Linked DNA regions of Homo sapiens: regions 1, 2 and 3 are each linked to region 4. The links come from fine-mapping of genetic effects on gene expression. A gene starts in region 4. Each other region holds a variant in brackets. All regions are shown on one strand. Distances are between the middles of the regions.

The links. PIP is the estimated chance that this variant, and not a neighbour inherited with it, causes the effect. A credible set is the group of variants that fine-mapping cannot tell apart.
Region 1: its variant is the best candidate, but not a certain one, in a credible set for the expression of VEPH1 in testis (GTEx, PIP 0.78).
Region 2: its variant is the best candidate, but not a certain one, in a credible set for the expression of VEPH1 in fibroblasts (GTEx, PIP 0.86).
Region 3: its variant is the best candidate, but not a certain one, in a credible set for the expression of VEPH1 in testis (GTEx, PIP 0.53).

What each region holds. Positions count from the first base shown.
Region 1 is chr3:157,401,976-157,409,616 of GRCh38, forward strand. All of the region lies in intron 6 of VEPH1 (ventricular zone expressed PH domain containing 1), which reads right to left. Among named protein-coding and RNA genes, the nearest start is that of PTX3, 31 kb to the right of the region's middle. The variant C/T (reference allele first, on the strand shown) is at 3,913.
Region 2 is chr3:157,557,873-157,565,513 of GRCh38, forward strand. It overlaps the pseudogene SLC66A1LP. Among named protein-coding and RNA genes, the nearest start is that of VEPH1, 58 kb to the left of the region's middle. The variant T/C (reference allele first, on the strand shown) is at 4,184.
Region 3 is chr3:157,427,615-157,435,255 of GRCh38, forward strand. It overlaps VEPH1 (ventricular zone expressed PH domain containing 1), which reads right to left. Exons shown (of 14, transcript NM_001167912.2): 5 at 708-874. Among named protein-coding and RNA genes, the nearest start is that of PTX3, 5.4 kb to the right of the region's middle. The variant T/A (reference allele first, on the strand shown) is at 4,679.
Region 4 is chr3:157,499,635-157,507,275 of GRCh38, forward strand. VEPH1 (ventricular zone expressed PH domain containing 1) reads right to left here and starts at 3,782. Exons shown (of 14, transcript NM_001167912.2): 1 at 3,643-3,782. RefSeq lists an enhancer at 1-502 and a silencer at 3,575-3,809.

The sequences.
Region 1 (7,641 bases), 98 kb before region 4:
GTAAATGGTGGAAATAGAGTAAAACAGTTTAGGACTTTTAGATAGGGTTATGTTGAGATCTTAACAATGGTTTAATCTTGCCATTTTTCAATAGAAGAACAGAAGAGTCACTTCACTGTATCTATAGTGCCTATTATGTACATTGTATGGGATGCTCAAATCCATGCATCTTGCCTTTGAGGTTATTCTCACTTCATAAGATGAGGGAAGGTAGAATTGTTTCCTTCAGGGAACATTTGTAACTTTTGCTGTTGCCCCTCTATCACTCTCTTACCCCCTAGCTTTATTTTGTATTTACTAGCCAAGAAGGAGGAGTTGGTAGACAAACAGTGCTTTAGAAATGTGTAGCTGTCATGGAGAAGGTGGGCTCTGGAAACTCTTCTGGATGAAGAAAGGAAGATTTGAATGAGATAGGAGCCCTTATTGTGGGAGAATGCTGCCTAAAGCGGAAGGAAGTTTGCCCTCTTAAAGCAGAAGGCAGCAGAAGGAAGAGCTGGAGAGAATGTAGACAGGAGTAGGAGTTTAGTCTAATCCAGAGATTTAAAAAATCAACCACACATAGTAAATAGAGATTTCAATGAAGCAAGATGGTTAGAAAGGTTTATTTTCTACTTTTCTGAGTGAATTGTTAGATGTTTAGACCTTTATAGGATCTATACTGCACTGAAGGTTGGGAAACATTACCCAGACCACTTTCATTTACTCATCAACAGTTATGGAAACATTTATTTTCTATTTATCTCATATTTATTAATCTTAAAAAGCAATAAATAATTATTCATTTACTTTATTACTTAGCAAGAAATAAACTGATGTCAAGATACCCTCTCAGTGTAATTTCTTACATGTTATCTACATGAATACACGTAGATGACAGCAACCATCTGGTTAATATTATGATCTATACCTGTGAACATTTTAGTGTGATAGTGTATTGTTGCTAAGCCAACTGTTAGATGCATATTTTCTTAGAGGGCTTCAGCTCTGTTCATGTAAACCAGTACCAAGTTCCTAAGCCCTACTCACTACAAAATAAATTCAGGCTTTACTTTTTTGATAAATAATGAAGAAGGCTGAAATGTAAATATAATTTCAAGACAGTATAGTTAGTCATGGCTTTGCAACAAAATTCATCTACTTCCAATTACTCTCCTCATATATTTTGAGAGTACAATTGTTACACGATTTTACATCATAGTGATAATACCTCTGTGTCAAATCCTATAGGGAGTTCTGGGAATGCTTTCAGATCCTACTTGAGCTACAAAAAAAAATCAAATAACATTAAAAAATAAAAACAAGAACTTAAGCAATAGAAAAGACTTGTACATACCCACCTGTGATATTCCGTGTAAACCATTATTTAGGAACACCCTCTCCCTTTATACAGGAGTGGGGATGGAGTGAGGAATTCTAAGAATATTACACAAAAGTGTCAATGCATCACAATTTTTGCCTATTAAAGGATCTTTTTTTTCTTTTATTTTATTGTGATACTGGAATATAGTGGCACAATCATAGCTCACTGCCTTGAACTCCTGGGCTCGAGTGAGTAAAGTATCATTTCTAAGTGAATAAAAAAGCCCCTTTTTATAGCAGAGGGATTGGATTTTATTTAACTTTGCACTTGCATACAGTGCCTTGCATACAGCAGGTGTGTGATAAATATTCATAAACTGTATTGTAGGTAATGCATGATATTTCCTGACTTCATGTATATACTGACATTGTCAAAGATTATGACTGTTAAAGGTTACTGATTATTTACATAAAAACAAGTGGGTCTTGCAAAGAAAATTGGGTATAGCTGTGTGTGTGTCTGGAAACATATATGCATCAAGCAGGTAGTATATATGCGGGCATGTCTAGACTCCCTCAGGTTCTATAGCAGATAAATCCTGTAGGGCCTGGATCCTCAGGAGCAGTACTACTTACACTTTCATGTGCATACACACCACCTGGGCATCTTGTTCAATTATGGATTCTGATTTAAGTTTCTGAGTAACACTCAATGCTGCTGGTCCGGACACTTTGGGGACCACATGGGATGGAGACCGACAGATCCTGAAAAACCAGTATCCATAACTGTTGACTGGAACCCAATGTCTCTAGTTTTCCTGACCTCCTCAAACACAACCTGCCATGTCATCAGATGCCATCTACTAGTACAAGACACTGATGGTCAGCCAAGTTTCAGTCTCTATGGAACAGTTAGTTGGCAAGTACCTGTGAGCCACCTGCTATGAGCTAATTACTTGAGGGGGGGTTATGCCAGGGCCACGAGGAGGTATAAGGTATGGTTCCTTCCTTCAGAGTGCTTATGGTGGGTTGGGAGTGTGTGTATTCATGCACTAAATAAATGAAAAGCAAATGCAACCAGAAAACCATCAGATGCTAAACTCTGTGTTATAGATGTATGTTCTCAAATATTCACAGCAGGGCAGATTGCAATGGCTTGGGAAAGTCCTAGAAATGTCTTTGTCTTGGATTGGGGTTTCCAGAAACAGACAGACCCTGAGATGATTTAAGTGCAAATCATTTATTTGAAAACTTCAGGAAACCAATAGGGGAACAGAAGAGTGAGAAAGAGAAGGGAAACAGCTCAAAAAGTAGCCTGGGAAATTCTAGGGAGAGTTTATTTCATTTGAGGGGTAAAGGAGTTTTGGAAGTTTACAAAACACCAACTCCCATCACTGGTTGTAGGATGCCATGGGACAGCATTCATTCCTCACATGCATACGCCATGTGTCTTAGCAGAATGGCTTGTGAAGTTGGGGAAGCCATAGGCAAAGAAATGCAAATACTGGCTGTTGGAAATAGTTGGAAGTCAAGTGATTTCAGTCTGAGGGCTACAGGCAGGGCAAGGACCTGCTATCATCTTAAAAGAGCAGCAGGAGTTGAGCTGGAATTAGCAACTGCTTCGTCCTCTTCAACTCACCTGCTGCCAATGCCCAGTTGTCCTTTCTGGTGAATCTGAGATTTGTTCACTTGTTAGGCTCATGGCTAGAAAGGGCACTTACTAAGTGGTGGCTTCCTGTCTTTCTTGAGGCAGGCACCTACTTCCCTCACAGACACCAGTGTAGGAAAGTCAGATCGTCCTCCTCTGGAAGGAGGAAGATCAAGTCTGCGGGGACCAGGCTGCCGATTTCTGGAGTTTGATCCTGGTCTTGCAGACACTCCTTCTATGTGCAGCCATGTTATGGGACTTGCCAAACTGTCCCAGCTCACAGGGAACTGCAGGTCTTCTGTGGATTTGGTCAGTTGGCCCAAATTACAGTTAATAATTACAAGACATTGTTGAAAATTTTTGCAACATGTAACTTTTGTAACCATTATTTACTACTCTACATTTGCAAGTATTTTGGGAACTGTTTGTCCTTTCGCCAGCTCTTTAGTTTCTTGGGAACGCTAAGGTACATAGGATTACATTTACTTATCCGCACTATGAAGGGAAATAAAGTACTGTTCCTAGAATCAGCTGAGAGAAGGAAGAAAACAGGAACTATCTGCTAATCAATATGGAATTTTCATAATCTGACCCCAGCCCACTGTCCAGCCGCATCTCTCCCCCTCCCCTCCATTATTCATCCTATGCTCCAAGCACTTGAAATGCTTCATGGTTTCTAGAAGACTCACAGCCTTTTCCTGGCTGACTGCCACTGAATGCGGTGACTTCCCCATGGATACCTTCTTCCTATTCCCCTGACATAACCCTATCATCTTACAAGCCAAACTTATAATGCTCTCCTAAAACTCCCCCACATGGGGTTAGTTTCTTCCTTCCTGGTCCAGTTCAAAATTCAGTAACAGCAAGTACCAAATTAAATTCCAATTATCTGTCTTTACATCTTCCTCATCCCCAGTTGTGAGATCCTCTAGGGCAGGGACCATGTCTTTCTCTCCTCTGTGTCC[C/T]CATCACCAGTACTGGGTCTTACAGTTAGAAAGAATCAGCAGCTCCACCCTATATCACTGAGGGAGAGAGGATATGCAACATCAATACTCTTATTTGAAAGTATATTTTGTATGTACTCAAAGTTTGCCTTTGTTTTCCTTATACTTTGTAAGAGGTTTATTACTAATATTATTTACAGTTAACATGTACCCTTTTTAACAATACAAACAAAAATAAAAGCTATTTTCATTTTGGAAAAAAATCCTTCCCCAATTCATGACAGTTTTATAATATTAAGTAGCAGCCACTGGCACCAACCAAGGTTTAAGAAAATGTATCCCCAAAGTCATTGAACCTACCAATGTTTTAACTAAGTTTATCATCCCTGGGGAAATTGTGCTTTTAAGTCACAGGTCCTTCCTCTTGTAGAACGGACCCCAGATTTTTTTTAGTCTTGATTTGTAATTTAAAGGTGTAAATCATCCACCCAGCTCCCATTTCTCAGGATGTTATTCAACAGCCAGGATGAGGACAGTAATGTGGCTCTCAGCTGCCTTTGTCATTCTTTTCCTTTTCCTCCTGAAAGTGTTTTTGTAGGCCTGCCGGATGTCACAGAAATGCAACCTGGGCAAGATGTGTGTCACTTCTTTACTTGAAAAGTGTCCATGACTCTGAGCCCAGAGAGGATGTAATGAACACGCCCTGGTGCTTGGCCAGCATATTCCAGCTAGTTAGAAAAACAAGGCAGAGGGCACAGGATTTAACACACACGATGGCAGTGGCTGCACTCAGGGGCATGCTATTTGATTCTTCACAGATGCGGGCTATTGGTCTGTAGTGAAGGAAAAACAAGTGGCCATAGCATCCTTCCACGTGCTATGAGATCATTTGTAAAAAAAATTTTAAAGCATCTTGTCTCTGTTTCTACCACTAGGTCTACTGCCTTGTAGGTCTGGCACAGAGGAGGGGCATGGTAATGAAGTGCATGCTACATACTGGTATGTGCTTTCCAATAAGACCAGACCCTAAAGTAAAGTAAAGATGACTATTAAACTAAAATTTGTTTCAGTTCACTTATTTGAGGCTTAAATAGATGGAAAGATACATGAATTCAAGTTGGCCTCCCAAAAAAAAAAAAAAAATCAATGCCATTCCTAAAGTGTTCTCTTTTCCAAGTTGACCCATGTTAGGAAAGAGGGCTATAATAACGATAATACCTAACAAGTGAGCAGAGACCACTTGCGTGGCTAAGAGAGTCTAATTAGGGAAGGAAATAATGAAAAAGTAAAACCCTCTAAAGTGGAAACAAACATTCTATTTTGGTCCTCTGTGGACGAGAAACATCAACCTAGTTTGGGTTTAACTTAAACCACTTCATATTTAGTTTAAGAGTTTTTAAAAAATTGCTGCAAACTTATTTGAGCTGTTTATATAGCTGGGGAGGTGGGGACCACCTACCCTTTATGGAAAGCAATGTACTTCCAGTGGCCCAAGAAAACAAGGCCTATTTTAAATTATGAAGGTTTACAAAATGAGGTTTATTATTTTTGTTATCCTTATTTCTCCCACGAATGGTGGTCTGCGATACAAATGTAAAACAGATATACATTCCACCCCGAGGAATAAAAATTTACATACACCAGTTATTTCCTAAAAAAGAAAAATTGTGTAGCCAGCTATGCTTTCCACCTTTAATGTACATGTGGTTGTCTACGGTGCCTCATTCCAATTCTGTCTCCTGATTTTGACTGGTCCCACATATGCCTACCCATTCAGCTGCTTTCCTTGGAGAAGCAGAGGCAAGGTAAGCCATTTCCCTAGTTTTCACCTCCCTAATTTCAGTCTGTTAGGGTCAAGTTTTAGCCTGTATACAAATAAGTGCAATGAGAAAGACTTGGACAATGCTGAGTAAAGTAATAAAGTGCTGGCATTTATCAAATGTTTACTATTTGCTAAATACTGTTCCACATGGGTTAACTCATTAAATCCTCACAACAAACCTAAGAGGTGAATAATATTCCCATTTTACAGATGAGGAAACTGAGTCAAGAGAGGTGATGTAAGTTGCCCATAGCTGGTGAGTGGCTGAGTCAGGACTGAAATCAAGGCAGGCTGACTCTAAGCACACCCTCTTAGTCACCGTGTTACTTTTGCCCTCATCGTAAGCAAATCCATTCATGTAATGGATTCTTGCACAGAGAGTTCCTTGGTGGTGATCACTGCTCAGTCTACAGTGGTGAGTGCTCCTTCTTGGAGCTGTACTTCAACCAATTTGCAGCCTGCTGAGGCCTCGTATATGAAAATCTCTTTATAATCTACTCAGTATCATCTTTCATTTATGTCACCTCCTAGCAGCCATTATGGATGGCCTTGGCTCATCACATGTTTGTTGTATAATGACTCCATATTCCCCTGTCAACTTTATTCTCATCTTTCACCTGCTAGATATCAGAGATAGATTGTATAAGCTCAGAAGTATACAGCCCTCTCCACACTAATATTTCCTCCTCCTCTCTCTTAAGTTATAATTATGTCATCTAGAATAAGTAGACAGACTTGATGGAATCAAAGTTCAAGTGAGAAATCAACCCTCAAATTCTTAATTACCAGTATTCTCAAGTACTCATTCAGTCTTATGGCCACAGATGAATTCAGATGGATTTGATAATATTTATTTCCCCTGGAAGCTGAGAGGTATAGGGAGGAGAAAAAGACATTAACCTGCAAATTGCAACACGACATAATTGAGATACAACCATGACACATTTAAGGTACAACCAAATTACTATGGAAGTATAGACTGGGAGTGACTAACTTTGCCTAAGGGGACTGGGAAGAACTCACAGAAGAGGCAACATTTGAGCTGGGTCAGGTAAGATAAGTAGGAGAAGAGGGTAAAAGCTATCCAGGCAGAATAAGCTGTGAAGGTCTCAACGTATGTCAGAGTAAAGGGTGTGCAGGGAAGGGTGTAAAATCCTGAGTAGTCAGAATGTAGGGGAATGAAGTAGACTGGACAGGTAAGAGGTGAAGCTACAGAAGGAAGCTGGGGCCATGCCAAGGAGTTTGCATAATAACCCATAGGCAGTGGATGAGACCACAGAAGACTTTGTGTGAGGAAGTACACTCACACTTGTATTTTTCCCTCTCTCGTTGGCCTCTCCAGCTAGACAGGTTTCGTTTATTATATTGCTGCTGTTACTTTGTTGTTGTTAGTTGAAATCCATCAAGCATTTTTTTTTAATATGCCAGGAACTGTGTTAAGTGTTTTATATAAACTGCTGGATGGTTGTTTGGGGAATGAACCCTTAGGTGCTACTAAGAAGTCATTTCTGCTCTTGTCTGAAAGGTTTCCACTGCAACCTTCTCATTTGAGAAAGACAAAATGACCCATGTATTTTTGCTGTGTTTTGGACATATTTAATCAAATACTATTTCTTATTTATGAATTTACTTCAACTGAGCATACCAGAGAAATGGAGCAAATCCTGGCATTATAAAGAACTGGATAGATCTTTACTGAAAGGTGCACCTCAAGGGCAACAATTGATCGGTTCTCCCAGAAGCAAATTTCTCTACCCTGGAAGTGTTCTGTGAGTCATTCATGGCCTCCACAGTGACACAAGCACTATATGATTATTAAACATGGCTTTATTTAAGTTTGGGCAAAAAGATTTCTGAGTTAATCTGGGAGATAGAGAAAATAAGAATCTGTAGGATTTTGGTTTTTGTTTTATATATACAACTCTTCT
Region 2 (7,641 bases), 58 kb after region 4:
CAAGACTATTCAATAGGAAAAGAATGGTCTCTTCAATAATGTTTCTGGGATAAGTACACATGCACACACAAAAGTGAAATTGGACTCCTACTTTACACCATATGCAAAAATTAACTCAAGATGGATCGGTGGCCTGCATGTAAGTGCGAAACCTTAATACTCTTAGAAGAAAACATTGGGGTAAGTTTTTATGGCCTTGGGCTCAATAATGGATTTTTAGATAGGACACCAAAAACTTCAGCAACCAAAGAAAAATGAAATAAATTGACCTTCCTAAAAATTAAAATCCTTTGTGCATCAATGAATATTATCAAGAAAATGAAGACAATTCATAAGATGGGAGAAAATATTTGCCAGTCATATATCTCATAAGGGTCTAGTATCTATATTACATAAAGAACTCTTACAACTCAAAAAGAAAAAGACAGACAGCCCAATTTTTAAATGGCCAAAGGACATGAATAGATATTTCTCTAAAAGAATATACAAATGTTCAATAAGCACTTGAAAAGATATTCAAAATCATTCATCATTAGTTATTAGGGAAATGCAAATCAAAACCACAATAAGATAGCATTTCACATCCACTAGGAAGACTATAATTTTAAAAAATGGAAAGTAGCAAGTGTGGACAAAAATGTGGGGAAACTGGAAACTCTACTATTTGGCTGGTGGAAATGAAAAATGGTTTAGCGACTTTGGAAAACATTTTGATTGTTCCTCATAAAAATAAGTAGGTTTACCATATGACCCAACAATTCCACTCCTGGATATAAATGCCAAAGAATTTAAAATAGGTGTTCAAACAAATCTATGTACATACATGTCCACAGCAACACTATTCACCATAGCCAAAAGGTGGAAACAACCTAAATGTTCAGCAACAGATGATGGATAAACAAATTGTTGTGTATGCATACAACGGGATATTATTCTGCTATAAAAAAGAATGAAGTGTTGATACATGCTACAATGTAGATGAACCTTATCAGCATTATGCTAAGTGAAAGAAGCCAGACACAAAATGTCCCATAGTATATGACTTTATTTATATGAAATATTCAGAATAAGTAAATCCATAGAGATAGAAAACAGATTGGTGGTTGCCAGGGGCAGTAAGATGGGGAATTAGGTATTACTACTTAATGGGCATGGAATTTCTTTTAGATGGTGAAAATATTTTGGAACTAGATAAAGAATATAGTTGCCCATCGTCATGAATGTACAGGAAACCAGTAAGTTGTACACTTTAAAATGGCTAACTTTACATTATGTAAATTTTACCTCAATTTTTAAAAATCTACTTAGGAATGATTCTCATGTACTAAAATGCACCCAATTTAAATGCATGTCAATAAATTTTGACATATATACAATTTCATGTAACAACCACCTCAATCAAAATATAGAACATTTCTATTCACCTGAAAAGTTTCTTTGTGCTCCTTTTCAGTCATACTACCACCTTGAACTCCTAGCCGGACAAACACTGATCTTTTTTTCTCACACCATATATTAGTTTTTCTTATACTAAAACATTTATAAATCAAGTATGTGCTTACTTTTTGAAGGCTAGCTTCTTTCACAGTATGTGAGATTTGTCCAATTTGTTGATACATCAGTAATCCATTCCTTTTTAATCCTAAACAGATTCCATTGTATGACTAAGACACAATTTTTTTACTCAGCTATCTATTTGTGTTGTTTCCAATTTTTGGCAATTATGAATAAAGCTTTGATGAACATCTGTGTACAAATCTGTGGTTGGTATGTTTTTATTTCTTTTGGGTAAATTCCTACAAGTGGAATTGCCAGATCATAAGGTAAGTATATATATGTTTAGCCTTTTTTTTTTTTTTGTTTGAGTCAGAGTCTCATTCTGTTGCCCAGCCAGGCTGGAGTGCAGTGACATGATCGCAGCTCACTGCAACCTCTGCCTCCTGGGTTCAAGAGATTCTTGTGTCTCAGACTCCTGAGTAGCTGGGATTACATGCATGTGCCACCAGCCCAGCTAATTTTTGTAATTTTAATAGAGACAGTGTTTCGCCATGTTGGCCAGGCTGGTCTTGAACTTTTGGCTTCAAGTGATCCACCCACCTTCGCCTCCCAAAGTGCTGGGATTACAGGCGTGAGCCACCATGCCCAGCCTGCTTTATTTATTTATATTTTTAAGCCAGCCTTTTTTCTGAATACTTGAAACATTTTACACTCCATCAGTTGGGTATGAGTGTCATATGTTCCAAATCCTCACCAAGAGTTGGTATGATCAGTCTTTAATTTTAGACATCATAAGAGGTGGGTAGTTGTATCTCATTGTGGCTTTAATTTGCATTTCTATAATGTTATATGATGTTGAGCTTATTTTTACATTCATTTGCTATCCATATGTCTTTGGTGAAGTATCTGTTCAAATTTTTGGCTCATTTTACAATTTTTTTTTATTATTGAGTTTTAAGAGCCCTTTATATATTCTGGCTACAAGTTCTTAATTAAATATGGGATTATTCAAATATTCTCTCCCAACTTATGGCTTGTCTTTTCCCTCTGTTGAAAGTATTTCAAAGAGCAGATGTTCTTAGTTTTAGTGAAGGCCAATTTATCTTTTTTTTCTTTTACATTGTGCTTTGGTGTCTTACCCAAGAAATCTTTGCCTAATTCAGCATCACAAATTTATTACTCTGTGTTTTTTTTCTAGATGTTTCATAGTTTTAGATTTTACATTTGGCCTGTGAGGTATTTGGAATTAATTTTTGTATAGAGTATGAAGTATGGATGGAAGTTTCTCTGTGTATAAAGTATCTGGGTTATTTTTTGTTGTTATTTTTCCTGGCAGCTTTTAAGATTTTTTCTCATTATTATTTTTATTACTGGGTTGTAGCATTGTGATTTTGATATGCCTTAGTATGGTTTTCTTTTATTTTACTGCTTGCAGTTTTTTGGTTCTTGAATTTGTGGATTGACATTTGTAATCATGCTATTGTAAGAGATATTGATACTTTAATTTCAATTTTCAATTATTTGTTGCTGGTGTGTAAAAATAAAATTTGATTTTTATATATTGATCTTGTACCCTGCAATATACTAAACTGACTTGTTAGTTCTAGTAGTGTTTTCATAGATTCTGTAAGTTTTCCTTCAGAGAGAAACAAACCCATTGTCTGTGAACAAAGACAGTTTACATCTTCCTTACATTCTGTTTGTCTTTAATTTCTTTTTTTTTGTGTGTTATTGCCCTGACTCCAACCTCTGTTACCATGTTAAATAGAAGTGGTGAGACCAGATTTCCTCACCTTGTTCCTGATGTTACAGGGAGCAGTTTTTTGTATGGGCCTAATTTTGCCTCACTATTAAGGCAAAACTTTTCTTAGTACTCTACCCAATGTGTTGTGAGTTATTAGTTTTTCCAGTCTGAATAGTGAAAACAGGCACTAGTCCTGGCTCTGCTGGAGATCCAGAGAGTTTTCCTTCTAATCTTTTAGGATGTTTTTCCTCTTGATCTTAGGTAGTTCCTTTACATGGATATACTGATAAGTATTTAGTTGATGATTTGAGAGGGATTGTCCAGAGGTCTCTCTTTGTGCAGTTCTATCCTTGCTGGTACTCTATTCTGCAAACTCTAGCTCTGTGGCCTCCCTGAACTCCCAGTTCTTTCTCCTCAGGGCGATCTCCTGACATCCTGGCTTTCCAATATTTGTAACACAACCTTAAGACTCTCTCCAGGCAATAAGTTAGGGTAATCATAGGGTTCATTCACCTCCTTTGTTTGAGGTTTCTCTGGGTTCTCTGTTCTTCATTGCCTGATGTCCAATGCCCCTAAATCATTGTTTCATATATTTTGTCCATTTTGTGATTTCAGGCATGACGGTGAATGTAATCCCAACTTATCACTGTTGAAAGCAGATGTCCCAAATATCTTTTGTTATTTCTTTCTCATTTATTTTTGTTGTGGCCAAAAAACATAATCTGTATTATTGTGATACTTTAAATTTATTGAAACTAGTTTTATGCCCTATCATGTGATTTCTCTTGATGAATGTTCCATTTACTTGAAATGAATGTATCCTCTGAACATTATAATGTGTGTAATGTTCTATAAATGTCAATTAGATCAAGCTGGTTGATAGGGTTTTTTTGTGCCTTCTCTACACTACTGTTTGTTAAGAAGACATCCTTGCTGAGTCAA[T/C]AAGAAGTTAGCTAACAGCACTGTTCCATCAATCACTGAGAGAGAAGAATTGAAATCCTGAATATAGTACTGGATTTGTCTTATTTCCCCTTTTAATTCTTTCAGTTTTGCTTCATATATTTCAAGTTTCTATGTTAGGTGCATAGACAATTAGTATTGCTATGTCTTCTTGAGGAGTTGACTTCTTTATCATTATAAAATGTCTCTTTTTTCTTTAGTAATATTTATTGTTCTGAAGTCTACTTTTTCTGAGTATTATAGCCAACTTATTTTTCTTATGATTTGTATTTTATGGTACACTTTTTACAAAATCTTACTTTTAACTTTTTTTTTTTTTTTTTTTTTACCATGTTTGTATTAGTCCTTTTTCATGTTGCTGATAAAGACATACCCAAGACTGGGAAGAAAAACAGGTTTAACTGTATTTAAAGTTCCACATGGCTGGGGAGGCCTCAGAATCATGGTGGGAGGTGAAAGGCACTTCTTACATGGTGGCAGCAAGAGAAAATGAGGAAGATACACAAGCAGAAACCCCTGATAAAACCATCAGATCTCACAAGACTTATTCACTACTGCAAGAACAGTGTGGGGGAAACTGCCCCCATGATTCAAATTATCTCTCACTGGGTCCCTCTCACAACATGTGGGAATTATGGGAGTACAATTCAAGATGAGATTTGGGTGGGACACAGAGCTAAACCATATAATTCCACCCTGGCCCCATCCAAATCTCACGTCCTCACATTTCAATACCAATCATGCCTTCCCAACAATCTCCCGAAGTCTCAACTCATTTCAGCATTAACCTAAAAGTCCACAGTTCAAAGTTTCATCTAAAGCAAGTCCCCTCCACCTATGAGCCTGTAAAGTCAAAAGCAAGCTAGTTACTTCCTAGATACAATGGGGGATACAGGTATTAGGTAAATACGGCTGTTCCAAATGGGAGAAATTGGCCAAAACCAAGTGGTTACAGGGCCCATGCAAGTCCGAAATCCAGCAGGGCAGACAAATATTAAAGCTCCAAAATGATCTCCTTTGACTCCACATCTCACATCCAGGTCACACTGATGCAAAAGGTGGGTTCCCATGGTCTTGGGCAGCTCCGCCCTTGTGGCTTAGCGGGGTAAAGCCTTCCTCCCAGCTGTTTTCACAGGCTGGTGTTGAATGTCTGTGACTTTTCCAGGCAAACGGTGCAAGCTGTCAGTGGATCTAACATTCTGGCATCTGGAGGATGGTGACCCTTTTCTCACAGCTCCACTAGGCAGTATCCCAACAGGGACTCTGTGTGGGGGCTCTGACCCCACATTTCCCTTCTGCACTGCCCTAGCAGAGGTTCTCCATGAGCGTCCTGCCCCTGAAACAAACTTCCACCTGGGCATCCAGGAGTTTCCATGTTCTGAAATCTACGTGGAGGTTCCCAAACCCCAATTCTTGACTTCTGTGCACTCTCAGGTTCAATACTATGTGGAAGCTTCCAAAGCTTGTGGCTTCCACCCACTGAAGCCACAGCCTGAGCTCTACGTTGGCCCTTTCAGCCATGGCTGGAGTGCCTGGGATGCAGGGCGCCAAGTCCCTAGGCCACACACAGCACAGGGACCCTGGCCCTGGCCCAGGAAACCATTTTCTCCTAGGCCTCCAGGCCTGTGATGGGAAGTGCTGCTGTGAAGATCTCTGACATGCCCTGGAGACATTTTTCCCACTGTCTTGGGGATTAACATTTGGCTCCTCATTACTTATGCAAATTTCTGTAGCTGGCTTGAATTTCTCCTTAGAAAATGGATTTTTCTTCTTTCCTTTTTTTTTTTTAAGACCGAGTTTTGCTCTTATTGCCCAGGCTGGAGTTCAGTGGTGGCACGATCTCGGCTCACTGCAACCTCTGCCTCCCGGGTTCAAGGGATTCTCCTGCCTCAGCCTCCTGAGTAGCTGGTATTACAGGCGCCCACCACCACGCCACCTGGCTAATTTTTTTATTTTTAGTAGACACGGGATTTCATCATGTTGGCCAGGCTGGTCTCAAACTCCTGACCTCAGGTGATCCACCCACATTGGCCTCCCAAAGTGCAGGGATTACAGGTGTGAGCCACCATGCCCAGCTGGATTTTTCTTTTATATCACATTGTTAGGCTGCACATTTTCTGAACTTTTATGCTCTGCTTCCCTTATAAAACCGAATGCCTTTAACAGCACCTAAGTCATCTCTTGAATGCTTTGCTGCTTAGAATTTCTTCCTCCAGATACCCTAAATCATCTCTCTCAAGTTCAAAGCTCCACAAATCTCTAGGGCAGGGGCAAAATGCTGCCAGTCTCTTTGCTAAAACAGAACAAGAGTCACCTTTGCTCCAGTTCCCAAAAAGTTCCTCATCTCCATCTGAAACCACCTCAGCCTGGACCTTATTGCCCGTATCACTATCAGCATTTTGGTTAAAACCATTCAACACGTCTCTAGGATGCTCCAAACTTTCCCACATCTTGCTGTTTTTCTTCTGACCCTTCCAAACTGTTCCAATCTCTGCCTGTTACCCAGTTCCAAAGTTGCTTCCACATTTTTGGGTATATTTTCAGCAATGTCCCATTCTACTGGTACCAATTTCCTGTATTAGTCCAATTTCACACTGCTGATGAATACATACCCAAGGCTGGGAAGAAAAAGAGGTTTAATTGTACTTACAGTTTCACATGGCTGGAAAGGCCTCAGAATCATGGTGGGAGGTGAAAGGCACTTCTTACATGGCAGCGCCAAGAGAAAATGAGGAAGATGCAAAAGTGGAAACCCCTGATCAAACCATCAGATCTCTTGAGACTTATTCACTACCGTGAGAACAGTATGGGGGAAACCGTCCCCGTGATTCAACTTATCTCCCACCAGGTCCTTCCCACAACATGTGGGAATTATGGGAGTACAATTCAAGATGAGATTTGGGTGGGAACACAGAGCCAAACCATATCAATGTTCATGTTTTCTTGTAGCTTCTTCAACATATGGAATATATCTATAACAATTAAATGCATGCTAATTTCAACATCTCTATCATTTTGGTGTCTGTTTCTATTGACTAATTTGTTTTTCTTCATTATTGGACACATTTTCCTGCTTCTTTGCATGTCTTCAATATTCAGTTGGATGCTGGACATTATGCTCAACAATGTGACAGTCTTCCTTGAAAACTTTAAGAGTATTGGTGTTTACTTGGGCAAGCAGCTACCTTATTTGAAAATAAGTTTGATAATTTTAAGGCTTGTTTTTAAACTGTGTTACAGTGGGTCTAGCATAGCCTCTACAGCTTGTTTACCCTTACTCTGAAGGCACAGTCTTTTTGGGTGCTTTATGAATGTTTCTTGTCTTCTAAATAATCTCTTTCCCCTGCCTGTTCAGAACTCAAATGTCTCTTAGTCCTGTGTGAGCCGTAGTAGTTTTTCTGTTAATAGTACCCCGGTAGCTTTTCTCTCCCTGGTAGTTG
Region 3 (7,641 bases), 72 kb before region 4:
CTGCTAATTTTTGTATTTTTTGTATAGACAGAGTTTCACCATGTTGTCCAGGCTGGCCTCAAACTACTGGCCTCAAGTGATTCACCCACCTCAGCCTCCCAAAATGTTGAAATTACAGGCAGGAGCCACCATGCTCTGCCTGTGATGGTTAATTTTATGTGTCAACTTGACTGGGTCATGGGGCACCCAGATATTTGATTAAACATTATTTCTGGGTATGTCTGTGAGGATTATTTCAGATGAGATTAGCATTTGAATGGGTAGACTGAATAAAGCAGATTGCCCCTGCAATATGGGTGGGCCTCATCCAATTAACTGAGGGCCCGAATAGAACAAAAAGGTGGAGGAAGGGAGAATTTACTCTCTCTGCCTGATTTTGTGAGCTGGAACATTGGTCTTCTCCTGTCCTCAGACTGTAACTTATGCCATCAGCTCTCCAATTCTCAGGCTTTCAGACTTGAATTGAAACTATGCCACTGGTTTTCCTTGGCATCTAGCTCGCAGATGACAGATGGGACTTCTTAGCCTCCATAATTTCATGAGCCAGTTTCTCATTATACAAACAGAGTAAGTAGATGAGCGCTTTCACTTAAAAAAATGGGCATTTGTAAATGTATGAGACAGGAAATCCTAAGCACATACGCTGTTCACACACAAAGAAACATGCCTGGTTGTGTGCACCATGACATATACAATGTACTTTTTACCTCGAGTTGTTTTTTCTTTGCTGCTACATGCAAAAGCCGTAGTAGATGGTACTGTTCTGGCTGTTCCAGCTGAGACATCAAGGCCAGGAGTTCTGTCAGGTGTCTATTAATTGGCTGAGGCTGCTTTTCATACACAGCAGGTAACACTCTCAACAACATGGTGTTACCTGTTGAGGGAACAATAAAGGGAATGATGACTTTATCAGGCCATGAGCAACAGAAATAACATTATTACCAATGTAATAATATTTGCACTTACACATTAAATAGCACAGACTGATGGCCAATTCTTTTGCTAAAAATAACATGGTACCTTATTCTGAGATTAAAATGTGATTTAATCCGATTCCACAAAAGGAAATATTTTATGATATAATCAGCACCATTAACTAATGAAAAATTTTGCTAAGTAATGCACCATGGGGATAGAGGAACTTTGACAGTAATCAGACCACACCCTTGAGAAGGAAACAGTTCCAATAAAGAATTCCTGATGATAAACAAAATTTAAACGATGTTTAAATGAAAACTAAGCAGTGCTGTAATCATGGACCTAAATGAAACTGAACAACAAAAAAAGTGCAAAGGAATGAATTCACATTCCTGGAAGACACAGAATCATAATTTAGACAACTCACATACAGAAACTATGCCTTATTTTATGAATAGTTTAAGAAGTAGTAATGCAAATTTAAATCCCCAATTTCTGCACTATTTCAAGGGAAGTTTAGCCTCAGCTGATTTGTCACACATAATTTCCTCAAAGATATGTATAGACAACTAGATTTATAATGGCAAAACCTCAAGAAAACTATTACATAACGTATAGAAACTTATCTGCAATCAACATATGGGCAACATCTGCTTATCACTCTATGGTATAGATTTTTTTTCTCAAAATCCTCACAAGTACTTAAATGTCTCAGGGGAATTGGTTTCTAGGGATTTTTTGAACAAGAATTTTTTTGACTCTACTTTTACTTTAAATTTGGCTTTGTATATAGAAGCCATACACAGAAAGAATCAAATAAGAAGGAATTACACATATATGGACCTTCATTAAATGGTAGGAACATGCCTATATATAAAAGACAATTTAGATATGATCATTAAAGAAAGAAGGCCAGAATTTTCAGAATATCAATATCTAAATTTAACGAAAGCGTGATTCTGGATAAAACTGAATGAATTGAATGAATTTGGGAGATAATAAAAAATGAGAATTGTTTTTTCCACATGTAGTTCATAGAATAAGTCTAAAACAGGTTTTATCATGTTCCCCAGAATACAAGTTGTTGGAAATATTTAGAGTTTTCTTTTAAAAGGTTGTGTTCGTCAGTATTTATTTTCAATAGTTTAATTTTCAACAATTTGTTTTGTTTTCTGTTTATTTTACTATGAGCGTCTCCTTAAAAGATCAGGAATTTTTTAATGCAATACCCAATTTGTAAAGCCCAAGTTAGATTATAGAACTTAGTTATGAGGACATACTGATCAACTGCTAAAAATGGTCACATTAAAAGGGACTGTAGTTGCAGTCTAAGACAGGAAACTGTTGCATGGCATTTCGGTACAAAACTCACTACAGAGGCCCTGGGAGCCTTGAAGGGAAAAACCCCAGATTAGTCATTTTTCAGCTGACTTGAATTTCAATCAAATAATACAAAAAACAAATGCAGAACTTTTGCAGAAATCTTATAAATTCCATTAGTCAATAATACCTTCTTTTAAATTATGAAATAGTTCAAGTCATCAAACAAATGTAGGCAATAATATAAGGAACATTGGTGTGCCTACCAACCAGATTTGTCAAAACTTAACCTTATATGATAATTGCTTTTCATCCCATTTGTTTCCTTTTCTCCCCAGAGGCAACCATCATCCTAAAGGGAGTATTTATGATCTCCATAAGTATTTTTACACTTTAATTACATGCGTATGTATCAATAAACATTATATAGTATTGTTTTGGATGCTTTAAAATTTTATGTGAATACCATCATACTCTACACATCCCTTCGCAACATATTTTTTTCCTATTCAACATTTTGTAGGAGTTATATCTCCAAGAAGCTCTCCTTCATTTACTCTCACAGCCATGTGTTATTCCAGTGTATAAATATGCAACAACTTATTCATATACTCTCTGTGATTGAAAGACATTATGTTGTCATTATTATTCATTGCCTTAATCAATAATGCTGAAATAACTGTCTCTTTGTGCAAAAATGAGAGATATTTCTTAGGGTAGTGCTTCTGAGTCTAATGTGCTTAGAAGTCACCTGGGCATATCTTTAAAACACAGATGTTGATTCAACAGGTTGGAGGTAGGGTTTGAGCGTCTGAATTTCTAACAAGCTCTCAGGTGACACTGATGGTCCATTGACCAAATAGTTAGTTAAGTGGCAAAGCACTGAGTATGTCCCTAGGAGTTGACTTTGTAGATGTTCCAAAATTTCTTTGTGAAGCAGTTGTATTCATTTTCTATAGCTGTTATTAGAAATTATCTCAAAATTAGTGGCCTAAAATAACACAAATTTATTATCTTATATTTCTGTAGTTCAGAAGTCTGACATAAGTCTCCCTAAGTTAAAATCAATGTGTGCCCAGGGCTGGGTTCCTTCCTGGATGCTCTAGGAGAGAATTTGTTTCCTTGGCTTAACCAGTGATATGCTTTGGCTCCGTGTCCCCACCTAAATCTCATCTTGAATTGTAATCCTCACGTGTCAAGGGAGGGACCTGGTGGGAGGAGGTTGGATCATAAGGGTAGTTTTATCCATGCTGTTTTCATGATAGTGAGGGAGTTCTCATGAGATCTGATGGTTTAAAAGTGGCAGTTTCCGCTGTACTCTCCCTCACTCCTGCTGCCATGTAAGACGTGCCTTGTTTCCCCTTTGCTTTCCGCCAGGATTGTAAGTTTCCTGAGGCCTCCTCAGCCACGTGGAACTGAGTCAATTAAACCTCTTTTCTCCATAAATTACCCAGTCTCAGGTAGTATCTTTATAGCAGTGTGAAAACAGACAGATACATCCAGCTTTTAGAGGCTGCCTGAATTTCTTGGTTTGTGGCCCCTTTCTCCATCTTCACAGCCAGCAACATGGCATCTCTCTGATCCCTGTTCCTTCATCTCATCTCTCCCCTTGATTCTCTCTTCTGCTTCCCTTTTCCACTTTTAAGGACCCTTGTGATTGTATTGGGTTTAACTGAATAATCTAGGATTATCTCCCTATCTTATTTAGCAACCTTAATTCTATCTGAAATGCATATTACATAACATGTTCACAGGTTCCGGGGATTAGAACATGGACATCTTTGGGGGACCAGTATTCTGCCTACCACCAAGATTATGACAATCTACTCCCACCAGCAGCATGAGTGTTTCTGTTGGTCCACATTCTTGCCAACATTTGGTTGTGACAGACATCAGTGTTTGCTAATCTGATGGGATGTATCTAATATTTTTGCTTTAATTTTCATTTCCCAATTACTTGTTATATATTATATATAACAAATTATATATATACATATATATATAATTGTTTCTGAGATGGAGTCTCACACTGTTGTCTGGGCTGGAGTGCAGTGGCGTGATCTTGGCTCACTGCAACCTCCGCTTCATGGGTTCAAGTGATTCTCCTGCCTCAGCCTCCCAAATAGCTGGGATTACAGGTGCCTGCCAACACACCCAGCTAATTTTTTTGTATTTTTAGTAGAGATGGAGTTTCACTATGTTGGCCAGGCTGGTCTCAAACTCCTGACCTTGTGATCTGCCCGCCTCAGCCTCTCAAAGTGCTGGGATTACAGGCGTGAGCCACCACACCCAGCCCTTTTCATATATTTATAGGTGATTTCCTCACTTGTGATTTGGCCATTCACATTCTTTGCCTATATGCTATTAGGATGTTGCCATTTTTTCTTATTAATTTTTAGAAGTTCCTTAATTATTCTGAGCTACTGAATGAATTTTTGAT[T/A]TATTGATTTAAAATTATATTCTTAATATAGTCAACTGTTTTCATTTTTTTACTTCATGGTTTAGGTTTTTTTGTTAGAAATTTTTCTGTATTCCAGGGTCATAAAAATATTCTCCTATATTTTCTCTTAAAGGCATTATGGTTTTGCTTTCTTGTAGTTGTCTTCAATCTGTCTGGAAATGACTTTGGTACATAGGAGGAAGAAGTTTAATTATATGTTTTTCTTTGTATACAAATAATTTTTTCTATTGAGTAGTCAATTGTTACTCTTCTGATTTGCCACACCTCTTTCATATATTAGGTTTTCCATATGTGTTTGGGTCTGTTTCTGGGCATTTATCCATCTCTTCATCAAGTCTACATTTTCTTAATTACAATAATTTTATAATAAATCATTATATCCCATAGGACCTACTTCCTGACCTCCTACTTCTTCAAGCTCTTCTTGGCTACTCTATACAAATTTTAGTATCAGTCTGTCAACATCCTTGAAAAACCAGACTGGGACTTCTTTTTCATATTGAACATATTGACTAATTTGGCATAACTGACATCTTCGTAAAACTGAGTCTTCTCATTTAAGGAGATAATTTATCTTTCTGTCTATGTAGATCTTTTTATGTTTTTAAATAAGGTGTTATAATTAGCTTTGTCTTATGTTAAATTGTTGCTTAGGTATCCCATAGCTATTTTTGCTACTGTAAATGAAAACTTTATTTGCAAAGGCATTTTCAATTTATCTGCTGGTATTAATAAAGCAATAGATTTTTGTATGTTGATCTTATATCCAACAAAAGTTGCTCAGTTCTTATTAATATGTCTTTTGAGTCTCTTAGATTTTTCTTTATGTAGATGATCCACTCATGATAAATAATAACAACTTCATTTCTTTCCATCCTAATCCTTATGTTTCTTCTCCTTATGTCCTTATGTCCTACTTTATGGGCAGGGACTTCCAATACACACTTTGATGAATAGAGTCACTGTCCACGGGTATCCTTGTGTTAATCCTGCTTTTCAAAAGTATGTTTCCAAGGATTTACAATTACATATGTATCTGTTTCTATAGGTTTTGGTATTTATGTTTTTTTCAGTTTAAGTAAGTTCCTGTCTGCTTTCTAGTTTGATTATTTTGAGTGCTGAATTTTATCAAACATTCTTCTCATCTATTGATATGATGATTCTTCTCCTTTAAACTGTTAATGTAATAAGTTAACAGCTATTCTAACATTTAATCAATCTTGCAGTCTTGGAATAAACTCAACTTGCTTATGATATATTTTTATGCACATTGCTGTGCATAATGTGTATTTTTATGCATATTGCTGTGTTTGGCTAATACTTTATTTAGAGCTGTTGCATCAACATTCTTAATGAGAGAGATTGCAGTTTTCCTTTCTTGTATTGTCCTTTTCTCTTTTTGGTATCATACTTAGTAGACATGTAAAATGAATTTAGCACATTCCTGAACACTCTATTCTCAGAAGCAGTTTGTACAAAACGGGGATTATGTGTTCCTTGAATGTTTGGTAGAACTTGTCCATCAAACCATCTGGGCAGTACTCTATATACTTCATTATATCAAGCTTTAAGTTATGTAGTTTAAGTTTCTGTATCCTTTGGCAGGCTTTTTTTTCGCATTTGAATGATCAGTTATGATATATGTGAACTTATCAGCTTTGTTAAAATCTCCCTCCATGATTATGGATTTGCCCATTTCTCCTTATAATTCTGTCAACCTTTGGTTTATATTTTTTGAAACTATATTACTAGATAATTCAGAGATATCTTCCTGTTAAAGTATTTCTTTGTATCATAATTTAACTATCCTCTTTTGCCTAAGTCTATTTTTTACTGATATTACTACTGCTATGCTAGCTTTTTTGAATAATACTTGCTTGGTGTGTTCTCTTCCTCCCCTCCAATTTAAAGCTTTTAACTTTTAACATTTCTACTTTATGTTTTATGCATAGCTTTTGTAAGTGATGTATAGCTGGATTTTTAAAATATTTCTTCTCTCTCTCTCTCCTTTTCTTTTTTTCAGGGTCTCTTTCTGTCGCCCAGGCTGGAACGCAGTGGTGTGATCACAGCTCACTGCAGCCTCCACTTCCCAGGCTCAAGTGATCCTCCTGCCTCAGCCTCCTGAGTAGCTGAGACTACAGGTGCATATCACCACACCAGATTAATTTTTAAATTTTTTGTGCAGATGAGGGTCTTGCTATGTTGATCAGGCTGGTCTCAAACTCCTGGCTTCAAGTGATCCTCCTACTTTGGCCTCCCAAAGTACTGGGATTCTGAACGTGAGCCCCGACTAAAATATTTCTATATGACAAATAGAAATATTTGTCTCTTAACTGGAAAATGTGTTTCATTAATATTTATGGTAATTATTGGTATATTTTGATTTAATTTTAGCAAATAATATTGTACTTTTAACTTATCCTTCTCTGTGCTTTTCTTTCCTCCTTCATTAATTTTTTTTTCATAGATCAAGTCTTTCTTTAAAAATTCCCCCTGCACCTTCTATTCGGATGCCTATGTCCATTTGGTAGTTGTCCTTAAACTTATAACAAATATTTTTGAGCAAAGCAAAATTAATTAATTTCTTTTTCGTCCTCCTGAACAATGAAATGATTTTAGAATCCTATTACTGAACATAAAAGCAGCACATTTTAGATTATTTCCTTATATCTGTCTTCCAGTTCATTAATATTCTTTTCAGCTTTGCCTAATTTGCCACTTAATCCATGCCTTGAGCTTTTAAAATTTTCAATTAACTTTTTTTTTTAATTCTAGAAGTTTTATTTGGTTCTTTAAAAAAAATCACCTAGCCTTTTTCTTTTTGACAATGTCTTATTCTTTTCTCATATTTCCAATTCCTTCTTTTAGAGCTTCAGTAGTTTTAAACATATTTATTTTCTAGTTTTTTGGCTGATATTTCAACTAAATGCAGTTCTTGGGGA
Region 4 (7,641 bases):
TCCCAGTGCAACGCTCTGTTTCCTGAGGTGAAACACAAAGCCTGCTCCAGTAAAGGAGAGTTGTTTTTAACAGAGAAAACAGAACTCCCTGTGTTCGTGAAAATCTATACTTTCCCAGGGAAGAATGGGGGGCGGGGGCGAGCCACGCAGGAAACAATTTTCAACAGAACTCAAGCAGGTGAACGGAATGGCTGTAGGGAGCCACCTCTCAGAGCTCCAGGGGAGGAGAAGAGAACTGCAGCTTCATTAACACTTCCCTCTCCCTGAGATCTCACAAACGTTTTGGAAACACTGAGTGTTCGTCCAGTAAGAGTCACCTCCTAAAGAAAGTATCCCTTTACTCTGCCTCTAGAGTAAAATTGTTGAAAGTTGAAGTATGCGGGAAGTTGCTAATAAACAGAACAAACTTCACAACATACGTACTCTCTTTTTTTCGTTATTTGCTGGGAAGCTATTCATAGAAATCCACGTGGACCAGAAATATTGGATTTGTACTTTTAAATATTGCAGCAACACTCAGGCAAAAGGTTTATCCTGCTTAATCTACTGACACTCCGATGGAGAAAAGGGCACTGGAACCTTCCTTTATTCTTTAAACAGTTAACAGTGCACTTTAAAAAGCAAGGTTTTTAAGACTGCATTCTTCTCGACCCCTAAGTCGTCTGTTCCTGTGGTAGATCTATAGCTATATCAAATCATCTCACTTCTGGCAATGTGTACAGGCAGCTATCCTGCAGATAATCTCATCTTTGTGCTCACTAGGGTGTGTCTACTCAAAGGGTGTGGTCAGGGTGGCCACAGTTAAACCAGGTCATATGTTCCAGGAGAACGACCTCGTAAATCTGCCTAGACAGTTGGTGATCAATCATATTTTTATGCCATCCACATTTGGAGAACTATCCCCTTGAAGAATTCCTTTATAAAAATCAAGAATCCAGTCATTCATGAGTAGCTGTATTTTTTCATTAGTAGTTTTTCTAATTTACAATATACTAATGAAGTTTCGTCTTTTAATGGAATAGATGATATTGCTTTAGCCTTCCCTTTTAATCCTCTATTCATTATTACTGATTTTTAATCCCTAGATTTTTATCCAGTTTTATTTTTTTAAAGGGTGTAGAGTCCTGAATTGGACACTCTATGGAACTCCAGTAAGAAGAGCAGAGTGATAAGAGTATGGGAATCTAGACTCAACTGGATTCCAAGCTCAGCTATGCCATTACCTGCAGTGTAAATGTGGGCAGGTTAATTAGACTCCCTGAGCCTGGAATTCCTCCTTTGCTCCTGAGGATTGTGATATGGGTTGTTGGGAGGTTTAAGGAGATGATATAAAACATTTAACACAGAGCCTGGCATATGGCAACCACAGAAAAAGTGCCAGCAATCATATCCTTAAGAGTACTATTATTCCTATAGATGGTCCACCAGTTAACACATCCCCATGCCATACCTTTTAAAAATTAATACATGACTGTACTGTTCACTAAATTGGGTTCACAGAGCTAAAGATGTTTAGGTTGTTTCCATTTGAGCCATATTTATATCTTTGTTGTCCTTTCTCTATCTTAGTCATCCTGTCCTTACCTCTGGGTTGTTCACTTTTCATCTGTAAACTTCATTCTCTTGAATGGGTCCCTGTTGATTTTTTGGCAACCTTATCTTGTTTCCTGGAGAGATAGTTTTACGGTGATCCTACCCACACCAAGGTTGAACAATAACAGTGAATGTTTTTACAGAGCAGAAATGGGCTAGAATACAATGTATCTCAAACTTTTTGTGGCTGGGTAATCCAAACACCTGAGTTTTCCATGGAAGTGTAGCACTCCTTCCCGTGTTTATTAGTGAGAAAGGAGTGGCCCTCCAGGGCTCCAGCTACTTTCTTTACTACTTTTCAAGGTGACGTACACTCAATGCCCACTAATAAAACATTAGTGGCTTACTCTATTATGCATCTGTAGATTCTGCTAAATGAAAATATACATGAACTGGAGGACTTAATCGCCACACTATTGGGATACTGCCTATAGAATAATTGAAACTCTTGGGGGAGATTTCAATCACCATAATTAACTCAAGAAACCAACTTATTCTGAAGAATTCAGCCTCTAGCTTGCAACTTAGGTTAGGGTATACCCTGGCTTCCTCACTTCAGAAAATTCTAGAATGACAATATTTATTTACATTACGCTTTAGACTACATTACTCTGCATCAAAACATTTTCATTTTATTCACCTGTATTAAAAATGCTCATTAACAAACTTAGACCCATTTGGGCTCTAGAAACTTTCAATAAAGTTCTCAGATTTTTCCCTTGAAAGAAAGGATTACAGATTCTTTTGAAGGAGCATCTTTTTCACACAGCGTGAAAGGACTACAGGCGTTCCCATGGGAATTGGCTGCATACATTTCAGCCCTTCCCACAAGATGTCTATTGTTCCCTGGATGTCTCTGGGCTTCCTTGGCTGTGGCGTGCTGCTACACTTCACTTCTACTGAAAGCCTCTGAGTCTGGCTTATTCTAAGCAATGCTAAAGGCTTCAGCCCTGTCTTTTTGCTAGAGTACATACGATCTAAGTTTGTAGCAGGCTTATTTCATAAGTACATGAAAAAAATAGATTTGGTGACCTATTTAGTCAAGAGCCCAAAAAACTACTTAATTTTGATTACCTATTTCAACTTATTAAAACACAAATAGGAAACATTTCCTTCAAAAAGGATGAGAAACACTTATCTTCAAGTCTAATAAACTTTCTAAAATCAAGGCTTTTGTGACTTGTCATAATTTTATAGTGTATTCATTTTCACCTGTAAATGTTGACTTTGTTGGTCATTTTTGCTCTGGAATAATACAAATCTTGCTGAAAAATCCTAATTCAAATTCGTGGGTTTGTTCTTCCAGAAAATGTACCAAAACTCTCAAACTACATGGAAAACTCAATGTTAAATGTATCTTCATTTACATTTAAGTTTCATGTACCAAATATCTATATGACCAACTCAAATATTTCTCTAAATATTTTTTTCTGCTTTTTAAATCAAAAATATATAAATGTCATTTAATCCAATGGTTGATTACTACAACAATTTAAGTGTGTATCTGAAAGAGTAAAAAAGTGGTTAGATTTAATTATGATTTGTAAGATATCTGAAACACCAAAGGAAAAAACGGCAGCAGCAACAAACAGTAATGGTGACCCTGTTCAACCCACTGACTGTAATGATGCTATAATATTTAATTTTCTTTGAAAATCCGTAGGCAGAGCCAGTTTCTTTGCTGGTTGCAAAATGTTGATTGAAGTAAACAAAAGTATAAAATAGAAATGAGACTAGATTATTACGGAGTAAAACAAAAATGCACATGATATGAATCTAGAAGCACAGCTTTCTGCTCCTGAGGCCTAGAGACATGTTTTAATAACCCACAGAGAAGTGGCATTTTTACTCTAATAACCGAAATGCCTGCATACATGGCTAGACACACAGCTCCCAAATGTGCTTTATCTGCATAATCAGCCAGCCCCTGGAAGTTTCTCAGCTCCATTCTCCTATCCCCCACTCTTTGCTTCTTTGCAGCCTCTGACATTTACTTTAATTAGCTTTTGTTTTTGCTGAACAAAAGGTCATGAAAGAAGATAGCCATACCTCTTTGCACAGGAATCTCTGGTCATAGAAAATAGAAGGCAAAATCCTTGATCTTTAGAGCACTGCAGCTGGGACCCATGACCATGCTCAGAGGCAGCCTTGCAGCTGCTGCCCAGTCCTGTGGGCTGCAGCCGCGTCTCCCTGAGCTGCCTGTCAAGCCAGTGGTACATTTCATTCCCTCCCCATTGACTCACCGTGCGGAATCAGGCAAATGAGTAACTTTTCTTCTCTCTCCCAAACTTCTGCTTAGACCTAACAATTGACGCAAAGCTTCACTTATTTCTACACTAGATTTACAGATTTCTCTGAGCAGATCTGTAGTTTGAAAGAATTAGATTTGCCTAACAACCAGTAATTTAGGTTCTGTTAATGAATAACTCACTTTAAGAAATCAAGGAAGTTTTAGGTTAATATCAGATGTGGGGCCTTTTAGCAGGCATCAGGAAAAAGGCTTGGGGAGGGAATGCAGGAAGGGAAGCACTGGAATGAAATGGTATTTAAGCCAAATATGATAGAAGAAAAATACCACAAGAGAAGCAAAATAGCTAGGGTAAAGGAGCAAAAGTCTAATTATACTATTGGTATTGCTTACGAAACACACAACAACTTAATGAAACTTCCCTGGTAGCACTAGAGATTTTTCTGAACCCTCATGGTTCCTTCTTGCATCCACTCAAATTTCTAACTCCTTCCTTTTACCATCCAAATATAGAACTCATCTTTTCAAACCTAATTCATTGGGGATCCCTCACAAGCACTCCCACATCGCCTCATCTCTCTCTCTCTTTTAAGGAGAATGCACTTTAAAACCTCTAATGCATAAATTAATTGGTGGTGCCCAGTGGATTATTATATCTAGAGGCTCTTCTCTCCCTTTAAGTGTATGGCATGGGCTTTCTTCCCTTATTGATCTGAGGTTTTGCCTTCACATAAAGTGATAAAACATTTCTGAGTCTCTCCCGACCGGAACTTTCAGTCAAACCATGTGAGGGTAACAGGGAGGGTGGGGGCGGGGGCTGCAGTGGGGAAAGTCAGGTGTAAGATGTACAAGTGGAAATAAAAATATTTCCATTCAGTGGCAATCATGCTGCATGTAAAAAAATTACTAGTCCAATTAAAAGGACTACTCATGGGGTGAAGATTACTTTCTCTTGTGTTTGACACTCAACATTCACTTACTCTACTTTTAGTCAAAACTGCACCCAAATTTCCCTTGGGAAACCATGTCCTTTGGGTACAGCTGATGCCCATAAACAGGATGGGCCTTAATTGGTCTTACCCAAATTAGAGTAATTGCATTCCTGTGATCATAGTGACTAATGCAGGGCAGGTGTGCGACCCCTTCTAGGCCAATGAGAGGACAATGATGAAAGCTCAGCTTTGGGAGTAAAAAGTCTAAGCTGCTGGACTTGATGATAAGAAGGTGTAAGGTCTGGCTGCTATTGCCCTCTTGCCACCAAGAAAACTGTTGACTTCATTTGGGCCCCTTAAACCACCTGCCCCTAATGCTAGCAAGACCTACCCTTCAGTGTACACTAATAAATTCCTTAATAGCTTAAGTGATTTTAGATTGGGTTTTCTGCCATTTACCATTAAAAAATTTCCACCTGACAGAATCAGCCTAACCTAGTTTTGTGGGAAGTCTCTCCTGGGTGCAGCTCATTGAAAATTAAGTGGACTAAGAGACTCAACAGGAACTATCTATGACAAATGGGCTCCTTCAGTGACAACCACAGGCTTCCTCTGACAACTAGCAGATGCAAGAAAGGCCTGGAAAGGAATGTAGTCATTCAGTGTACCTGAAAACAGGACCTTCTAAATTATTTTTTCCTAACCAGCTACATAGTCATTTCCTCAATACTTGAGTCCCCCAAAATAATTAAATTTAATCTCTTAGACTTGCCTGGCAGTACCTAGCCACATACCATTTGACCTCAATACCCTTGTCATGGAATCCATCCATTCATACACAATTTTCAAAAATTTCCTAAAATCACTTACGCTATTAAGGAATTTATCAGTGGACACTGAAGGGTGGAGCTTGCTAGCTTTAGGGGCAGCTGGTTGAAGAGGCCCAAATGAAGTCATCAGGTTTCTTGGTGGCAGAATGGCAACAGCAACCAGATATTACACCTGTTTGTCAAAAATGTATTTGAGTAATCAGTTTTACAGAGTATTGCTTTGTCTTTATTTTTCCCCTCTGTTCTTGTCTAACTCTCACTCCTTCCCCTCCTTTGGGAAACTTGAAATAAAACATTGTCTGTAACCACAAAATCAGACAAAGACGTTTTCTTTACAGAAAAGAGGTAAATTCTAAGGCAACTTACATAGGTGAGTTACATATAAACACTGAGAACTTCTGAATGATTTCATTTTCTATAAACAGTTTTTCTTACCTGTAATCATGAAAGCTCCTGTAAGCACACCATTTCTATGGTCAGCCTTCCAGCTTTGAAGAGTCCATTGCAGGCACAAAAACTCAGACACAGCCAGGAACTCCCTTTTGGCTCAGCAAAATAGCATGTGGCATGAACTATGACAGTCAAGTTTCTTTCTTTCTTTCTTTCTTTCTTTCTTTCTTTTTTTTTTTGAGAAGAAGTCTCGCCCTATTGCCCAGGCTGAAGTGCAGTGGTGCGATCTTGGCTCACTGCAACCTCTGCCTCCTGGGTTCAAGCAATTCTCCCACCTCAGCCTCCCTAGTAGCTGGAATTACAGGCGCACACCACCACACCCGGCTAATTTTTTTTTTTTTTTTTTTTTAGTTTGTTTGTATTTTAGTAGAGACAGGGTTTCGCCATGTTGGCCAGGCTGATCTCAAACTTCTGACCTCAAGTGATCCACCAGCCTCAGCCTCCCAAAGTGTTGGAATTACAGGCATGAGCCACTGCACCCGGCCAAGAGTCAAGTTTCTTTAAGAACAGGAATAGGGCCCTATGGCTAAGGTTTATTCATTTTTTTTCATTATAATAAAGAACATTTTGATAAAACATGCTCCCAAATTAAAGAAGACTCATTATTCTCCCAAACTAGCTCCTCCTTCCGTGTTTATTTTGGTGAGGGCCCTCACCATCTACCAAGTATACAAACAGGAAAGCTGAGTGTCATCCTGTATTTCTCCCCTTCCTTTTCTTACCCACATCCAGTGACTCTCTGGGTCTTATCTATTCTGTGTCCTTAACATTCTGGATAGATCCCAAGGTGGCCCTCGATGATCCACTTTCCGGTGTTTATTTCCCCCTTGTGTAATTTTTCCCACTTGAGTATAGGTGAGACTTGTGACTTGCTTCTAATGAATAGAATGAAGTAAGATGATAAAATGCTATTCCTGTGATTGCCTTATATTGCTAAGGCTCCATATTGCTGGCAAACTTCCTCTAGAGAGTCTCCTTGCTGGATTGATGGAGTAATGGGCCATGTTGAGAAAGCCCACATGACAAAGAACTATGAGTAGAGTCTAGGAGCTAAAGGTGGCCTGCAGCCAACAACCAGCAAGAAGCCAGGGCCCTCAGTCCTTCAGACACAAATGAATGAATTCTTCCAACAACCTTAGTGAACTTGGAAGATCCCCAGACAAGCTTCCACATGAGAACACAGCCCAGCCAATGCTCTGGCTACAGCCCTGTGAGATTCTGAGCAGAGGAACCATCTAAGCCAAGACTGAACTCTTAGCCCACAGAAAGTATGAAATAATAAATGTGTGTTGTTTAAGTAACTAAGTTCATGGTAATTGTTACAGAGTAACAGAAAATGAATATACAACCATTTTCCCCCTATCTACTGTCATAGATAAATAGCTATTGTCTTTGTAAATTCTTCATCCTTTCTTGTCTGGCTATTGACATTAGTCTCTTCAAAGGTCTCCCTGCCTCTAACATGGCCTCTTCAACTTCATTCTCACTTCTGCCACTAAATCAGCTTTCTAAAATAAAATATGATATATGAATCTCTGCTTAAAATTCACAAGTGGCACCCATTACCTGAGGATGAAATCAAGTTCCT